Linked DNA regions of Homo sapiens: region 2 is linked to region 1. Evidence: fine-mapped expression QTL. A gene starts in region 1. The other region holds a variant in brackets. All regions are shown on one strand. Distances are between the middles of the regions.

The links.
Region 2: its variant is fine-mapped to the expression of HAT1 in whole blood (INTERVAL, PIP above 0.99).

The regions. Positions count from the first base shown.
Region 1 is chr2:171,917,295-171,925,980 of GRCh38, forward strand. HAT1 (histone acetyltransferase 1) reads left to right here and starts at 5,167. Exons shown (of 11, transcript NM_003642.4): 1 at 5,167-5,213; 2 at 8,243-8,347. The coding sequence starts at 5,207. It overlaps LOC105373740 (a long non-coding RNA gene), which reads right to left and starts at 5,095. Exons shown (of 3, transcript XR_923579.2): 1 at 4,745-5,095; 2 at 3,786-3,937. RefSeq lists enhancers at 4,603-5,251, 5,392-5,441.
Region 2 is chr2:171,887,074-171,895,759 of GRCh38, forward strand. It overlaps SLC25A12 (solute carrier family 25 member 12), which reads right to left and starts at 7,171. Exons shown (of 18, transcript NM_003705.5): 1 at 7,130-7,171; 2 at 6,132-6,185. The coding sequence starts at 7,141. RefSeq lists enhancers at 6,817-7,383, 7,384-7,950 and a silencer at 7,094-7,413. The variant CTG/C (reference allele first, on the strand shown) is at 3,404.

The sequences.
Region 1 (8,686 bases):
GAGAATTGCTTGAACCTAGGAGGTGGAGATTGCAGTGAGCCGAGATCATGCCACTACACTCCAGCCTGGGCAGACTCTGTCTCCAAAACAAAAACAAAAACAAAAAACCTCATTAATCCCCATCTCTAAATTCCCCCTAAAGGCAACTATAGTTAAGTTTGTGAGGTATGCTTTCAGATGTTTTCTGTTTATATCAAAATATATTTTTATATAAATGAAATAACATTATATTTTTTGTAATTTATTTTTTAGCCTATTGTATAGGAGATAGAACATATTAGCCAGCCCCTTGTGCTAGTAGTTTAGGCTATTTTCAACTTGCCAGTGAAAATAATACAGCATTGAACATCTTTGTTTTAGTGTATCTTTGCATTTCTGTGAAATAGTTTTGCAGTACAAATGCTTAAAAGTGGAACTGTTGTTGCCTCAAAGGATACACAAATTGAAAATTTTGTTACATTTGTAAAAATGTGTTAAAATTTCTAAATTGCCCCTCAAAAGTTACTAATTTATACACGTATGGGTAGTACATTAGAGTTGGAAAATAAAGACTGTTGGTAATTTTTGTGTATTTAGGATAGGGGTCCTCTTACAGTAGTTTTCAACATGAGCCGGTCCATTTTTATTTTCTTTCTTTCCTTTTTTTTTTTTTCTTGAGACAGACTCGCTCTGTCGCCCAGGCTGGAGTGCAATGGCGGGATCTCGGCTCACTGCAACCTCCGTCTCCCGGGCTCAAGCAATTCTCCTGCCTCAGCCTCCTGAGTAGCTGGAATTACGGGTGTATGCCACCACACCCGGTTAATTTTTGTATTTTCAGTAGAGATGGAGTTTCACCATGTTGGCCAGGCTGGTCTCGAACTCCTGACTTCATGTGATTTGCCTGCCTCGGCCTCCCAAAGTGCTGGGATCACAGACGTGAGCCACCGCGCCCAGCCTATTTTCTTTCTTGTATCCCATTTGGAAGTCATCTAGCTGGATAATGGTTTCTGGATAATTGCTCTGGGAACTGAGACTCATAACTTTATGCTCATTAGCACTACGAGCTAAAAAAATGAGCTAACTAACTACTGTTATTTGTCTGTGTAAAGGTATGCATTTTGAAATGAAGACACATTACATACATGCATTTTTCTTAAAATTGATTTCCTGCATCAATTTTCTGATGACCATATATATATATATATATTTTGAGACGGAGTCTGTCTCCCAGGCTGGAGTACAGTGGCATGATCTCGGCTCACTGCAAGCTCCGCCTCCTGGGTGCATGCCATTCTCCTGCCTCAGCCTCCCAAGTAGCTGGGACTACAGGCGCCCGCCACCACGCCTGGCTAATTTTTTGTGTTTTTAGTAGAGACGGGGTTTCACCGTGTTAGCCAGGATGCTGTCGATCTCCTAACCTCGTGATCTGCCTGCCTCGGCCTCCCAAAGTGCTGGGATTACAGGCATGAGCCACTGCGCCCGGCCCGATGACCATATTTTTTTGTGCCAAATTTTAATCCATTCTGGAGGTTTCAAAGCAAGATAGTGAAGTTTATCAGTCCATATGAACTTGAGCCTGTACCAACACATGGTTGCCAGTTCATACCTAATAGTGTAATATGGCCCTTTTCTCTGAAGAAAATGCCTTTTCCAAATCTCCCTTACTAGAATAAATGTTATCATAGTAATACCACTTCATACCTGCATAGAGTTTTAGAGTTTACAAAGGTCGTTCACAAATATTATTCCGTTTAGTTTTTACAGCAACCCAGTGTGGTGACTGGGCAGTACTATTATCTCCACTTAATAGATGCAACAAGGTTGAACAAGCATGAAGTAGTAGAACTGGGACTAGTAGGGCAGTAAACTTCCCACAAGATATGTTGTCTCTTCCATATATATATGAGGATAGCATATTCCTTTCATAGAAATTTTATTCCATGATTGTAATAGTTGCTTTCTTAAATTCTCTTTAGAACAAAGTAAAATATAAGTTAAAAAAGGAAAGAAATCCCTACAAAAAAAAAGAGAATTTTTTTCCTTTTGGGTAATTTTCACATTACCTTTCCAAAATAAGTCATTCTTTTATCTTTTAGGTAAACTGTACCAAAACATCTATTCTGTAACATTAAAAAAAAAAAATGTGAGGATGGACATGGTGGCTCACACCTATTATCCTAGCATTCCGGGAGGCCAAGCTGAGAGGATTGCTTGAGGCCAGGAGTTTGGGACCAGCCTGGGCAACATACTGAGACTCCATTTCTACAAAAAACAAAAAAATTAGCTGTGCACAATGGCACACATTTGTAGTCCTGGCTATTTGGGAGGCTGAGAGGCAGGAGGATCTTTTGAGCCCAGCAGTTGGAGGCTGGAGGCTGTAGTGAGCTATGATTGCATCATTGCAATCCAGCCTGGGTGAGAGTGAGACCCTGTCTCAAAAAAAAAAAAAAAAAAAAAAGTGAACATCTAAGACGAGGACAATATAAAACCTCAATTCTGCAAGCAAATCACATTAAATGCTAGTCATACAATATATCAGTAAGTTTCATCATATTTTTTTCCTACAACTAACCATAATATCACAGGACTAATAATCTGTGATATACCACAGTTAAAACGTAATTCTTCTTGATTTCTTACTTATAAAGATCATAATTGCTGGTCAGCAATTGATCCATAGATAAGGTGATTTTGGAAAGAAATGATAAGTCTTGCCATTTTGAAAAGAAAAGTTTTTTTTTTTTTTTGAGATGGAGTCTCGCTCTCTTGAGCAGGCTGGAGTGCAGTGGCACTATCTCAGCTCACTGCAACCTCCGCCTCCTGGGTTCAAGCGATTCTACTGCCTCAGCCTCCCAAGTAGTTGAGATTACAGGCTCATGTCACCACGCCTGGTTAATTTATTGTACTTTTTAGTAGAGACAGGGTTTTACCATGTTGGCCAGGCTGGTCTCAAACTCCTGACCTCAGGTGATCTGCCTGCCTTGGCCTCCCAAGTGCTGGGATTACAGGTGTGAGCCACCGTGCCTAGCCAAAAATGATTATTAAAGAAAAAGATTGTTTTCCTTTTTTGATCCATAATGTCATTAGTCTCATTGATTTCAGTTTTCTGTCTTAACATTATGACTGTAATTTCTTTTTTTTTTTTTGAGACGGGGTCTCGCTCTTGCCCAGGCTGGAGTGCAGTGGCGGGATCTCGGCTCACTGCAAGCTCCGCCTTCCAGGTTCACGCCATTCTCCTGCCTCAGCCTCCTGAGTAGCTGGGACTGCAGGCACCCGCTACCACGCCCGGCTACTTTTTTTGTATTTTTAGTAGAGACAGGGTTTCACCATGTTAGTCAGGATGGTCTGGATCTCCTGATCTCGTGATCCGCCCGCCTCGGCATCACAAAGTGCTGGGATTACAGGCGTGAGCCACCACGCCCGGCCTATGACTGTAATTTCTTGTGTATCATTAGGTTTCAAGAAAAAGGATCTTGAAACCTTTTCTTGGGATCACGACTGTAATCCCAGCACTTTTGGAGGCCGAGATGGGCAGATCATCTGAGGTTGGGAGTTCGAGATCAGCCTAACCAACATGGAGAAACCCCGTCTCTACAAAAATACAAAATTGCTGGGTGTGGTGGCGCATGCCTGTAATCCCAGCGACTCAGGAGGCTGAGGCAGAAGAATCGCTTGAACCCGGGAGGCGGAGGCTGTGGTGAGCTGAGATTGTGCCATTGCACTCCAGCCTGGGCAACAAGAGTGAAACTCCGTCTAAAAAAAAAAAAAAAAAAAAGAAAGAAAAAGGATCTGGGCATTCTCAGTACCTTTTCTGATCTTTATCTTCAGGAAAGCCATCTCTATATAGTTGAGCAAATAAATACTGGGCTGAGTATCTGATGAACTGCACTCTGCATAGGTTGCATACTGAGAATGAACTTGGGCAGTTTATCTTTTCTGGGCTTTGGTTTCCTCATCTCTAAAATGAGAGGGCGTGTTAGTTCTAGACCATCATCCCAAGGGTCCATTTTAGCTTTAGCGTGCATCACTGTAAAACCTGTTAACAAATATTTGTTGAGATAAGGAATTCTGGTGTATAGCCAACATTGTGGGAATATTTGTGGATACCTAAATAGTGGTTTATCCTCTGGGGAAAGCAGTTCCTACAGCTACTAAATACTAACAAGGCCTATGGCTAAAATCAGGTAGCACCTTGTGATGTAATTCAAACCACTAGGACATGTGGCATGCAAGACTACATCAGGCTACTTGAGGTATTTATTAGGTAACAATTTTTTTTTTTTTTTGAGACGGAGTCTCACTCTGTTGCCCAGGCTGGAGTGTAGTGGCGCAATCTCGGCTCACTGCAACTTTCGCCTCCAGGGTTCAAGCGATTCTCCTGCCTCAGCCTCCCGAGTAGCTGGGATTACAGGCGCCTGCCACCATGCCTGGCTAATTTTTGTATTTTTAGTAGAGACGGGGTTTCACTATGTTGGCTACACTGGTCTCGAACTCCTGAGCTCAGGCAATCTACCCGCCTCGGCCTCCCAAAGTGCTGGGATTATAGGCGTGAGCCACCGCGCCCGGCCTAGGTAACGATTTTTGCGCGCTAAACGGTTCTTAGTAACCTGCAGAGTGAAAGCAGAGTACCTAAATATCATACTGTATACGTTAAAAACAGGGGAGAAAGGAAAAAAGGTGTTAAAGTTTACAGCAAAATGAGAAACAAATGAGGAAAACAAGTGAAAGCTTCTCCCGCAACTGAAACTCAACCTCTACATTTTACCTAGGTAAAATGGTAAAATTGCCCACAGGGCTCAGGTGTTTGGATGCACTGTCCAGGCCAAGAGGAAAGATTTTCAGCCAGTCTCCAAAACATCTCAGGGACGGGTATGGAAAACAGGCGTAAAGTGTCTGTATTGATCAAATCAACCCCAGAGAAACTTTCCTAGGGCCAGAGAGCATCTCAACCGCGAAAGTCCGTTTGCGGCCTCCTTCTCCACTTCAGGCCTGCAAAGCGGCTGACGGCATTCGCAGTGGCTAGGCAACGGCCCGCGCAGACTTCTCGGCGTTAGCCCCGCCTCTTGAGGCGCTTCCGCCGCCGGGCTCCTGGACACGCCTCCTTTAATTGGCTAACGTCACGCTGGGAGTGGGCGGGGAAAATATGTCAGACTGTGCGGTCACTTCCGGCCCGGGAGCGCGCGGGTTGATTCGTCCTTCCTCAGCCGCGGGTGATCGTAGCTCGGAAATGGCGGGTAAGTTACCGGGAAAAGTTTACCAAGGGGAGGAGGCGGCCAGATCGGGGATAGAACGCCGAGACGGTGGTGACAATGCCCGCCTAGAACTTTCGGGCTGTAGCCTGGGTTCCAGAAGGCCTGCTTGGGACCGGAAGCGCGGAACTCTCAGCCCAGCAGCTCCTTGTTGGCGGCGGTCCGCGCCCCCGCCCCCAACTGCTTGGGGTTCTGCGCCTTCTGCCAGCAATCCGGCCCCTACCGAGGGCCGAAGACGCCAGGGAAAAGCGTCATGATTTGGGCTCGTAAAATGCCACATGCCTTGGGGCCTGTTTCTCTTCCCATTCCTTTTGTCCACTGCTGCTTGCTTCAGCTCTTGTACATCTGGTCCTGTTCCCGCCAGCTGATTTTAATGCTCAGATCCTCCTCCTCTTCCAGGTCTCCGTCTACCTTCCACTACAGTCAACTTCTGAGCTAGCGCATTGCTGCCTTGCCCTGCTCTGGCGCTCCCACTTGGATCTCGACTGACTTCGTAGTCGTCTCGTTAATCTGTCACACTTTAGTATTCCGAGGATCGTATTTAGATGCCCTTTGAGAAAGACTTTGTTCCTGAACTGCTCCCTTCTCTTTTAGGGTTGGACTACTATAATACAATTCTCTTGTGTACATTCTAGAGACCCTTCAAGTTACAACATTTAATAATGTATAATTGCTATTACTTTGTACGTGTATTAAGGCTGTTTTGGTGTGATTATTTTTTTCGATTACTTATCTTTTGAAGTTATGGACAGTTTCTTTTTCCTGAGACAGGGTCTCTCTGTCGCCCAGGCTGGAGTGCAGCGATCATAGTTCCGGGCAGCTTCCAACTCCTCGTAGGCTCAAGCGATCCTCTTGCCTCAGCCTCCCGAGTAGCTAGGACTACAGGCATGCGCCACAACATTCGGCTAAAAAAAAACAATTTTTTTTAACCTTTTAGAGACAGAGTCTGGCTGTATTGCCTCAGGCCGGTCTGGAACTCTTGGCCTCAAGCCATCCTCTCGCCTCAGCTTCCCAAAGTGTTGGAATGACAGGATTGAGCCACTTCGCTGGCCTTTGTTGCTTTTATCATCTCTTTACAGGGCATTCCTCATAGTCTCTCTACATTAACCATTCCATTTTTATGAATATGTGGGATAGACAAGCTGTTGTGTGAGCTCTACAGATGTTTAAAGAAGGACTTTTCTACCAGATGGAGATTGTAGGATCTTGAAGTACCACAGAAGAGGGAGGACGTACTCTAAGAATTACATCTAAATTCGAATTTTGGGCCCATCATTTAGTAGTTGGATGCCCTTCAACTAAACCTCTTTCTAAGCCTGAACTTTTGAATGTAAAATGGGGTTGATGTAATACCTACTTATAGAATTGTGCAGATTGAGCTAATATATGATTTCACAGGTTAAATTTTGTTGCTTACATTCCTCGAAGTAAATTCTGTAATCTCGGTTCTGTAGATTAGGGTCAGAGGGGTTAAGTAATGTGCTCTAGTTCCCTGAGCTTACTAGCTCAGTAAGTGTGTGAAATAGTCAGAATCCAGGAATTCTCACTCCAGACTATTAATCTGTACTGCTTCAAGTCTTTCCCATTTTCTGTGTGTGTGTTTTAACCCCTTTTTGAAGTTTATAGCACATCATTGTACCCCTTTTTATTTTTTGCTTATGGCTTTTTTCTGTCTGAATTTTTACTGATTTTTTTTTTTTTTGGAGACTGAGTCTCGCTCTGTCACCAGGCTGGAGTGCAGTGGCGCGATCTCGGCAACCTTTGCCTTCTGGATTCAAGCAATTCTGCCTCAGCCTCCGGAGTAGCTAGGACTACAGTCACGCGCCACCACGTCCAGCTAATTTTTGTATTTTTAGTGGAGATGGGGTTTCACCATGTTGGCCAGGATGATATCCGTCTCGACCTCGCGATCCCCCTGCCTCGGCCTCCCAAAGTGCTGAAATTACAGGCGTGAGCCACCGCGCCCAGCCCATTTTTACTAATCATATGCCCATTTTGTCAGGAGATTTGTTATCTTGAAAGTTTCTCTTGATAGTGATATCTTCCAATGTTATTTATTATGTATATTATTGAGTAGCCACTATGTAGTAAAACTATTGTGCCAGTAGCTCACAGTTTATGACTTTAGGCATACATGATTTTTAAATATTTAATACAGTGGAAAGATGTTTTCTTTGTGCCCCTGTTCCTCTTCCTTCTTTCTTTACCCATGGTAACTATGGTTACCAGATATTTGTGTATTCTTCTTGAGACATTCCATGCATTATCATTTCCTTATCTGAAGCACTCTGGTAGACTTTTTCCAATACTTAAAATGAAATTCTGTCATAATTATCAGAGGACATTCTCATTTTGCTTTTTACATCTTATAATGAAAAAGACGACTTAGGTATAAATCCTAGCAGGTAATTTGTATTAGTACATGTTCAGAAATGTTAGTAATCTATCATGTTAATTTTCAGGTTTATTCATTTATATTAAGTATTCCTAGTTTATAAGCCTGTATCTCAAAAGTGATTTCTTTTTCTGTTTTGTAATGAGGCATTCTTTTTTTTTTTTTTTTTTTTTGAGATGGAGTCTTGCTCTGTCGCCCAGGCTAGAGGGCAGTGGCATGATCTCGGCTCACTGCACCCTCTGCCTCCTGGGTTCAAGAGATTCTCCTGCCTCAGCCTCCCAAGTAGCTGGGATTACAGGCGCCCGTCACCGTGCCCGGCTAATTTTTGTATTTTTAGTAGAGACGGGTTTCACCATCTTGGCGAGGCTGACCTCGAACTCCTGACCTTGTGATCCACCCACCTCAGCCTCCCAGAGTGCTGGGATTACAGGCGTGAGCCACCGTGCCCAGCTGGCATTCTTAATACATTTATTTAAGAGTATGTGGAGAATGACTTGTGCTTTTATGATCTATCAGCATGTTTTAAATCATACCCCTATTCCACTTATAATAACCCTATTGCAGGTTTGACAATTTAAGTCACTTCCAAACTAAACCTTTTAAAAACCTTTTCTCTTAGGATTTGGTGCTATGGAGAAATTTTTGGTAGAATATAAGAGTGCAGTGGAGAAGAAACTGGCAGAGTACAAATGTAACACCAACACAGCAATTGAACTAAAATTAGGTATGTATGCCATTTCTAAGTGATGTTATGTACATACTGTGTGTGTATATATAATCTTTCATTTTAAATTTGAAGTAAAATTTTATGTAAGAGCAGTTATTTATGCAAATGTATGGTTTTCTGCATTTATTGAACATATTCAGATTTTATTCAGTTTTGATTTATGTCATGGAAGGTGTAGATGTTTGAAAGGTGACAGAATTTTATATAAAAAGGAAAGACGGTGGGGCAAAAAGTAATAAGTATATATAGTTTTAGCCTCTTAAAAATATTTTTTACTTTTTTGCCTGTAAGAATAATAAACAATAGCAAATATTGGTGAGGATGTGGAAAAAAACA
Region 2 (8,686 bases), 30 kb before region 1:
AAAGCCCTGCTTTATTCCCTTCTCAGCTCCAGGCTACTGTCAAAAATAAGTAAATAAAATACATAAACTATTTGAATAAAAGAACATATCTTTCTATTAAAAATAAATGTTATTGTAAAAACCCTAAGGAGGAATCGCCCTTTGCTTTACATTAACAGTATCTTCTCCTCTTTATTCTCTAACCTAAAATAAGACAGGAAAAAAGCACATTTTCATAATTTTGTATGGGATACGATCTTCATTGTTACATTGGTGATAATGAAAAAAGAACAAAATTAAAATAATATTTGAGGTCTACATTTCAGTAAATTTTTGATCTGGCAAATATAGTTGCAGTCTTAACATATATTGCCTTTACTATACAACACACCAGCAAACAAAAGAAGCCTATTAACTAAAAAGAGAGAGAGATTAAAAAATAATTCATTTAAATGTTTTTGATAAATCTACTTTGCCACAAGGGACAGACAAAATTAACTCTTCATTTAGAAATTTGTCAGACTTATGTTCCTGCTGTCCCACCTCACCTTCTTCTTCACTGCTTCTATTGTCTCCTTTTGCTACTGTACACTGCTGATGTAGCTAAATTGAATCAATGACAGTGTGTGGGTGAGAGAGGTTAAAAGAAAAAAGGGATAAATCAAGAAATGACAGTTGTAAGGGTGGTAATGGTAAAATCTTAGCTTAAACCAGTTGTAAAATTACAGCACAGCCTAACACATAAGAATTCATTTGTTGTACTCCAATTTCATGAACTTGGCAGAGTGGAGGTGGGCAGAAAAAGGCAGAATCTTAGTGCATACTGTTGTTGTTGATGTTTTTTAACTAATAGAAACATAGCTCATCAAAACTTGAGAAGCAATGAACACCACAGGAAAAATGAACCTATTTCCCTATATTCAAAATAATAATGCTTTACTCTTATAAAGCCCTTCTTATGAACTCCCACACCAATTCTCATACAATTTCACTAAACATAGATACATAAATAAGTCAGTTGCCACTTTCTTTTCTTTTTTCCTTTTTTTTTTTTTTTTTGGAGACAAAGTCTTGTTCTGTCACCCATGCTGGAGTGCAGTGGTATAATGATAACTCATTGTAACCTCGAACTTCTGGGCTCAAGTGATCCTCCCATCTCAGCTTCCAGAGCAGCTAGGACCACAGGCATGTACCACCGCACCCAGCTAAATCTATATACATATATTTGTAGCCATGGAATCTCGCTTTGTTGCCCAGGCTGGTCTTGAACTCCTGGCCTCAAGTGATCCTCCCACCTCAGCCTCGCAAAGCACTGGGATTACAGGTATGAGCTGCCGCACCCAGCTGATATACCAGTACTTTCAAATAAAAATATATATATATTTTTTTAATTATTATTTTTTTTGAGACAGTGAGTCTCGCTCTGTCGCCCAGGCTGAAGTGCAGTGGCACAATCTCGGCTCACTGCAACCCCCGCTTCCCGGGTTCAAGCGATTCTCCTGCCTCAGCTTCCCTAGTAGCTGAGATTACAGGCGTGCGCTACCACATCTGGCTAATTTTTTATATTTTTTATAGAGACAGGGTTTCACCATGTTGCCCAGGCTGGTCTCAAACTCCTGACCTCAAGTGATCCACCCGCCTCAGCCTCCCAAATTGCTGGGATTACAGGTGTGAGCCACCACACCCGGCCATTTTATTGTTTTACAAATGACTTTTGACCCATGGCTCAAAAGTTTAACAAAATATTCTTATTTGAAAGTAGGAATTTTTATTGACTATTTGTGAACTTAAACAGTTAATGCCACAGATCTACATTTTACAAAGAGTTTTCAACTGTACTCTAAAATTTAAAATTATATCTCTTTATAGTCTTTAAGTAGCTCAGATAATTCTAAACTCAAGTGACCCCAAAATCCTCCCCAAACTAAATCATACTAATAACAGAATAATCTACATTTTAACCTTTAATTATATCCTTCTTGTGAAACTCCTACTTTAAACTTTCATGGGACCATTCTCCCTATTTCCCCTCCTCCTCCTTCCTACTTCAATTGGAGATATCACTTATAAATCAGCCCCTGATCCTCTGCCTTGCTTTATATACAAGGAATTCATCTACCACCTGCACAAATTTGTATCTGTCCAAATCCAACTTTAACTTAGTGAGATACATTTGTTTAGCAACCAAACTAACCCCATCCCCCCAAAAAATATTATCTAAATAGATGCCTTATCAATTAACACCTATCCTAAAACTGACAGGTTCACTTCTACTTCTTCCCTTACTTCCATATTTAATACCAAATTCGATAGATTCTTCCCTTACATCGCTGGTATTGTCCTTGCTTTTCATTTCCCCAGCCATCAACCACTCTAGGTCATTAATTCTCAAAAGTATTACTTCAGTAGCCTCTCAGCTTATCACCTAAGCTACTTCCAATCTCTTCATACTTTATCCAACATACACAAAAAGCTGCCAGAATTCACCACTTCAATTTGCCTACTCAGAAACCCACAGTGGCTCCCTACTGTTTCAAATCCAAATTCCTTGGCTAACTATTCTAGACAGTTACAGTGTAAAGAAACTTTTTAAATTTCATCACCTAAGTAACCAGATTTTTTTTTAACTTCTTAACACTCTGCCATTATCCCCTGATATACCTCTGTCTTTCAAAAGTCACCCCATTTCAATATCCTACCAGTAGTATTATGTAAGGGTTAAGGGTATGGGCTCTGGAATTTGATTTGAATCTGGCTCTACCACATAGTCTGACATTAATTTAACCTCATCTATGTAACAAGGATATTAAACCTGCTTCATAAAGTTGTTATGAAAACTAACATTAATATCCTTAAAGCACTAGGCCAATCTCAAGCACACTCTAAATGATCAATAAATGTTAGCCATTGTCAATATTATTACACAGCCACTATGATGTAAGAAGCCAATCTGATTGCTCTACCACAGGCTATGCATTTGCCTTCACTATTCTTGATTCCCTCAACCACAAACCATGAGAGATGGCATGGGCCTGAGAGAGCAGCTAGTCCAATCACATGTCCATCAGCATTTAGGTCTTGGCTCTGTTGTCTCTCTTGATATTCGACTTGGTGTCTGCTACTGAACAGTATTGTATTGAATAAAAGTGCATGGTACACAGCAAATAATCCTTTGTAAATATTTGTTGGGTAAATATGTTAAGTGCTAAAGAAATACACGGTTAGCATGTATTTTTGTCTTCTATTATAGCTAAAATATTAATCAACTATATGCATCTATAAAACTGTTTCATAAAACTGTTTCTAAACAGTACTGCAAAGCTTCAAATAACTATAGTTTGAAGTATTCAAGCCAGGAATAAAAATCTTTTACTTGGTAACTATCCTCAAATTGATCCAACTAGCAATACTGTATCGTGTGTGT[CTG/C]TGTGTGTGTGTGTGTGTGTGTGTAACAAGGTCTTGCTCTGTTGCCAGGCTGGAGTGCAGTGGTATGATCTTGGCTTACTGCAACCTCTGCCTCCTAGGATCAAGCAATCCTCCTACCTCAGCCACCTGAGTAGCTGGGACCACAGATGGATGCCACCAGGTGTGGCTAATTTTTAAAATTTTTTGCAGAGACGAGGTCTCACTATATTGCTCAGGTTGGTCTTGAACTCCTGGGCTCAAGTGATCCTCTAGCCTCAGCCTCCCAAAGTGCTGAGATTACAGGTGTGAGCTACTGCACTCAGCCTATATTGTTATCTTTCTTGCTGCGTTAGGCCTTTCTGAAGGTGAGTATTTACATTCTATCACTCTCTTATCTATCAATAATGCTTGTGTCAATGTTTCATACTTAGTGCTAAATAAGCAGTTATGAATTCCACAAATTTTCAACATAAAAATAAAGGCATCATCAAAATAATGTGTAAAAAGATAATGACGATATGCAAAACAGTAAATGAAAAGCTAAGATTTAAAAGTTGTCAAAGAATCGGCCAGGCATGGTGGCTCACGCCTGTAATCCCAGCACTTTGGGAGGCTGAGGCACACAGATCACGAGGTCAGGAGATCAAGACCATCCTGGCTAACATGGTGAAACCCTGTCTCTACTAAAAATACAAAAAATTAGCCGGGTGTGGTGGCACATGCCTGTAATCCCAGCTACTCGGAGGCAAGAGAATTGCTTGAACCCCGGAGGCAGAAGTTGCAGTGAGCCAAGATCACGCCAGTGCATTCCAGCCTGGGCGACAGAGCGAGACTCCATCTCAAAAAAAAAAAAAAGTTGTCAAAGAGCTAGGGACAGTCCTCGCCATTCTCCTCATACCTCCAACCCACCTCTACCCCCACTCAAAAACAAAAAACAAATCCATACAGAATCACAGTATATTTTTTTCCCATAGAATTTTTAAAGCTAGAAAGACCTCAATTCCCATTCCTTTATGTCCCACTGAGTCCCACATGAGAAGCTGAAACTCAGGAAGGCCAGATGATTAGCCTAAGGGTACAAGAACCAGATAAATGCAGGGCTGGGAATTAACTCCGTATTCCTAGGCAGTACTCAGATACCTAGGCAGTATTCTTTTCACTACATCATGCAGCATTTCAACTCATTTCTTCCGCATCTACTTAGTCTAGAACATAAAATTAACTATATCACATGAACTCTTCACAAAACAATTGACTATAATCACATGGTATGGTGAATACCGATATATTTTTGGCTATTTTCAAGAATGCCTGCAAGGAATAAAGGTTTCAAGTCATAAATGGACCATTTCTGTTATTATAATTACTTCTGTTCTGGAAAAAAATACTTCCCTTATCAGATATTATGACCTTTAAGATTCCCATTTTCACAAATTATTTTTCATAAACTACACATATGTATGCTCAACTACGCAGCGTCTTACCCAACAATAGCTTAAGCAAACCACATATCTCAAATAAAAATGTCATCTATTCCAGGCTCATCAGCATATGTTAGAATCTGTTCCTAAAATAGACTCATAGACTTTTGGAATGGGAAGGAACCTTGGAGATCACCTCTCATTTCACAGAGGAAAATAATACACAGCAGGGACCTGCCCAAGGTCAAAGTGTCTTCATAAGAACCCAGGTCCAGAATAGAAAGTTCTCAAAAGATTTCAGAGAGAAATGCAATATTTGGTGAAACACCTTAGCTTGCCTCCCTTTACATCTACTTTTTTTTTTTTTTGAGACAGTGTCTCTCTGTCCCCAGGCTGGAGTGCAGTGGCACGATCTCGACTCACTGCAAGCTCCGCTTCCCGGGTTAACGCCATTCTCCTGCCTCAGCCTCCCGAGTAGCTGGGACTACAGGCGCCCACCACCACGCCCGGCTAATTTTTTGTATTTTTAGTAGAGACGGGGTTTCACCGTGTTAGCCAGGATGGTCTCGATCTCCTGACCTCATGGTCCACCCGCCTCGGCCTCCCAAAATACTGGAATTACAGGCGTGAGCCACCGCGCCCGGCCTACATCTACTTCTTAAGTACAATTTCCTGCATAGGAAACTTTTGAAATTTAAGAAAAGAAAGCAAAACAAAAAACTAAGCCAACCTTTTTTTTTTCTTTTTTCTTTTCTTTTTAAGTCTACAGCCAAGTCACTGATTCTAAAAGCTTAGAAGTTAAGGTAGACCATTGCAAGAATCTTAAGAGGTAACATTTTGGGGTAAAATCCCCAAGGCTTAAGGATACAATGTAAGTAAGACACACAAATTAAGAATAGCTATAATATTCTTATCTCTGTAACAAATTACATGGAGGATAGCTCATAAGTAGGAAAACTTTGTAAACATGCAACTTTCAAGGAAGAGAATTTTAGTCATCATACCTATTAACTATACAAGAATGCCAATACATTTTGAAATTTTATCTTGGTCTCTGTGCTTAAGCTGGAAATTTTTTTTCAAAATATATATCTTAAGTCATGTAAAAAAAAAAGCAGTAACTTGAGGAAAACCTTTTATCGACCCTTAATTAAAAGAAGGCCTTAAATCAAACCTTATTAAGAGAAGTATAAGCTATATTGTCCGGTCATGTTTGAAAGAATACATGAAAACTGAACATTCCTCAAAGTTAAGGCATGAATAGGACTAAGGACATGTACGTTTTTTGTTTTTGCAATGAAAGGCACACTATGCAAGCCAATTTACCTGTAGAAATATGTTTCTTAACTCATGAGGATCCCCTCGCTTAGTTGTCTGCACCTGTAAGCAAAAAAGAAAAAAAAGCCAGTTAATGCTTCACTAGAGACCACACAATCTCTTCAGATTAGAGGTCACATGGCTAACAATCAATGCTCCTATCTTTTATCATTTAGTTTAAAACAAACTAAAAGCCCTAATTGCTGATAAGAACTGTCAAACTGGATAACTGTGACTAGAGGGCAGAAAAACAGGTGCGAATAGCCTAAGATACAGCAAAGCTATCGGACAGTGCTTCCTCTGGACTGGAAAGGGAAGGCAATGAGGATCTTTTACTTTATTCCACATCTACTAGCAACACAGTAGTAACCACCCACCTTCAAATCAAGAAGCTAACAAGAGTAGATCAACAGGAAAGTTAAATCACCCAAATTAATCACTTGGCCTAGCAGCCTTTCTCCATAAAAAGCAAACCCAACATGTAATTATCTCCGCGTCCCTCTCCCCATCCAACCTAAAATATGAGAGCTGCCACAAATACAAATACTTTCCATACCCTGCAATCTGCAACGCAAAAGCCAACCACTGCCCTCGGCCTTATTGAGGCCCCAAATTACTCAATACTTACTCCCTCCCCCACCGCAATTCACTGATACCCTAGGTATCCCCAGCTTTACTTGCCACTTCCTCCCACACCCTTTCTGATGCCCTCCAACTCCGGACTCACAATCCCATGCACCTAGGACAGGACATTACTCTTCCTTCACTGACCCGTGTTACCGTACAAGCCCCTTCAACTCACAATCCCTCCTCCTTCCCCTCCCCCAGCCGGGCATCCCCTCCTCCGGTCCAAGCCCCGCACAGCTCTCCCCGCAGCAAGCCGGAGCCCCAGGACAAGCTATCTAAGACCTAGACAATGAATAAAATGGGAAGCAGTGGGGGGCTGCAGGCAGGGCGCTCGGAATGTCTCTTATGCAATAAAAGCAGCAGCAGAGAGTTGGAGTCACCTTGACCGCCATGCTGTGCTCGGAAGCCGGGGACGAGCGAGTGAGCGAGCAGGGCCGAGCTGTCAGGGCGCGCGCGCGCCGTCTTCCCGGCCGCGCCCGCCCTCCCTCTCGCCGGCGCCGCGCGCGTCCCTATGCAAATGAACTCGGGGCGCGCCGCGTGCGGAAAGGGGCCCGGCGTCCCGGCCAGAAAGGCAGCTGGTCCAGGGCCGGCCGGCCGGGCGGAGGAGGGGGACGCGCCTCCCACGGGGAAAACAAGCGCGACCCATGGGATCCCGACGCGCCGCGTGGTTGCCACAGCTAGGTCGCCGCCAGGAAAGCCCCAGGTTTCCTAAGGCCTCTTAGTGGGTGTGGCTTTGGGCACCGACCAGCCAAAGTCGTTTTCCCCGAGGCTTAAAGGAACATTTGGGGCCTATACTGAGCAAGGTTCCGACGGATCAAAGAGCACTTCCCATTAATAACAATGAATTAATGACAACTGATGGCAAATACCGACAAAACAAGATTGGGAACCACTCACTCTAGGGAAAACCTACGTAAACATAATTTGAGAAATATGCTCCTAAATTGGCATGGGACGAATACGCTGAATTTATTTTTGCTTTGCGTGCTATTACAACGGTTTATTAGTAGACTCGCTCCACTTTCCTAATCACCCAAATCCTGTGTGCAATGAGAAAAAAAACTCTATGTGTCTTTGACAGGGCTGGCAATGAATCGCTTGCCCATACATGAACAGAAAGTAATTCTCCATTCGATTTCTAGCCCTACCTAAGAAGTAGAAGAAGCAGTAACTCTATCTTGAACCAAAACAATGTTTCTAAACCCGTCTTGCCAATATCACTGTATTAGGCTACATATTGATTCAAACATGTATGGGCATCCATTATATGCCTGACATGGTCCTGCTTGTAAAAAACGCAAATAACCTATAGCCCCCACCCTCTAGGGGCTTACAGATGGTCAATGCTTCTCCACAACCCCAATCACATGTGTATTGTGTGTATGTGTGTCTGTGTGTGTGTGTGTTGAGACTGAGTCTCGCTCTGTCGCCCAGGCTGGAGTGCAGTGGCACCATCTTGACTCACTGCAACGTCCACCTCCCAGGTTCAAGAGATTCTCTTGCCTTGGCCTCCCGAGTAGCTGGGATTACAGGCACCCGCCGCAATGCCCAGTTAATTTTTTGTATTTTTAGTAGAGACAGGGTTTCACTATGTTGGCCAGGTTTGTCTCAAACTTCTGACCTCTGGTGATCCGCCCACCTCGGCTTCCCAAAGTGCTGGGATTACAGGCGTGAGCCACCGCGCCCGACCCTGTGTATGTTTTCATTTTTAATTTTTTGAGACGGAGTCTCGCTCTATCGCCCAGGCTGGAGTGCAGTGGCGCCATCTTGGCTCACTGCAACCTCTGCCTCCTGGGTTCAAGCAATTCTCCTGCCTCAGCCTCCCAAGTAGCTGGGATTACAGGTGCACGCCACCATGCCTGGCTAATTTTGTATTTTTAGTAGCTATGGGGTTTCGCCCAAGCCACTTATAATTAGACACTAGATAAATGACACAC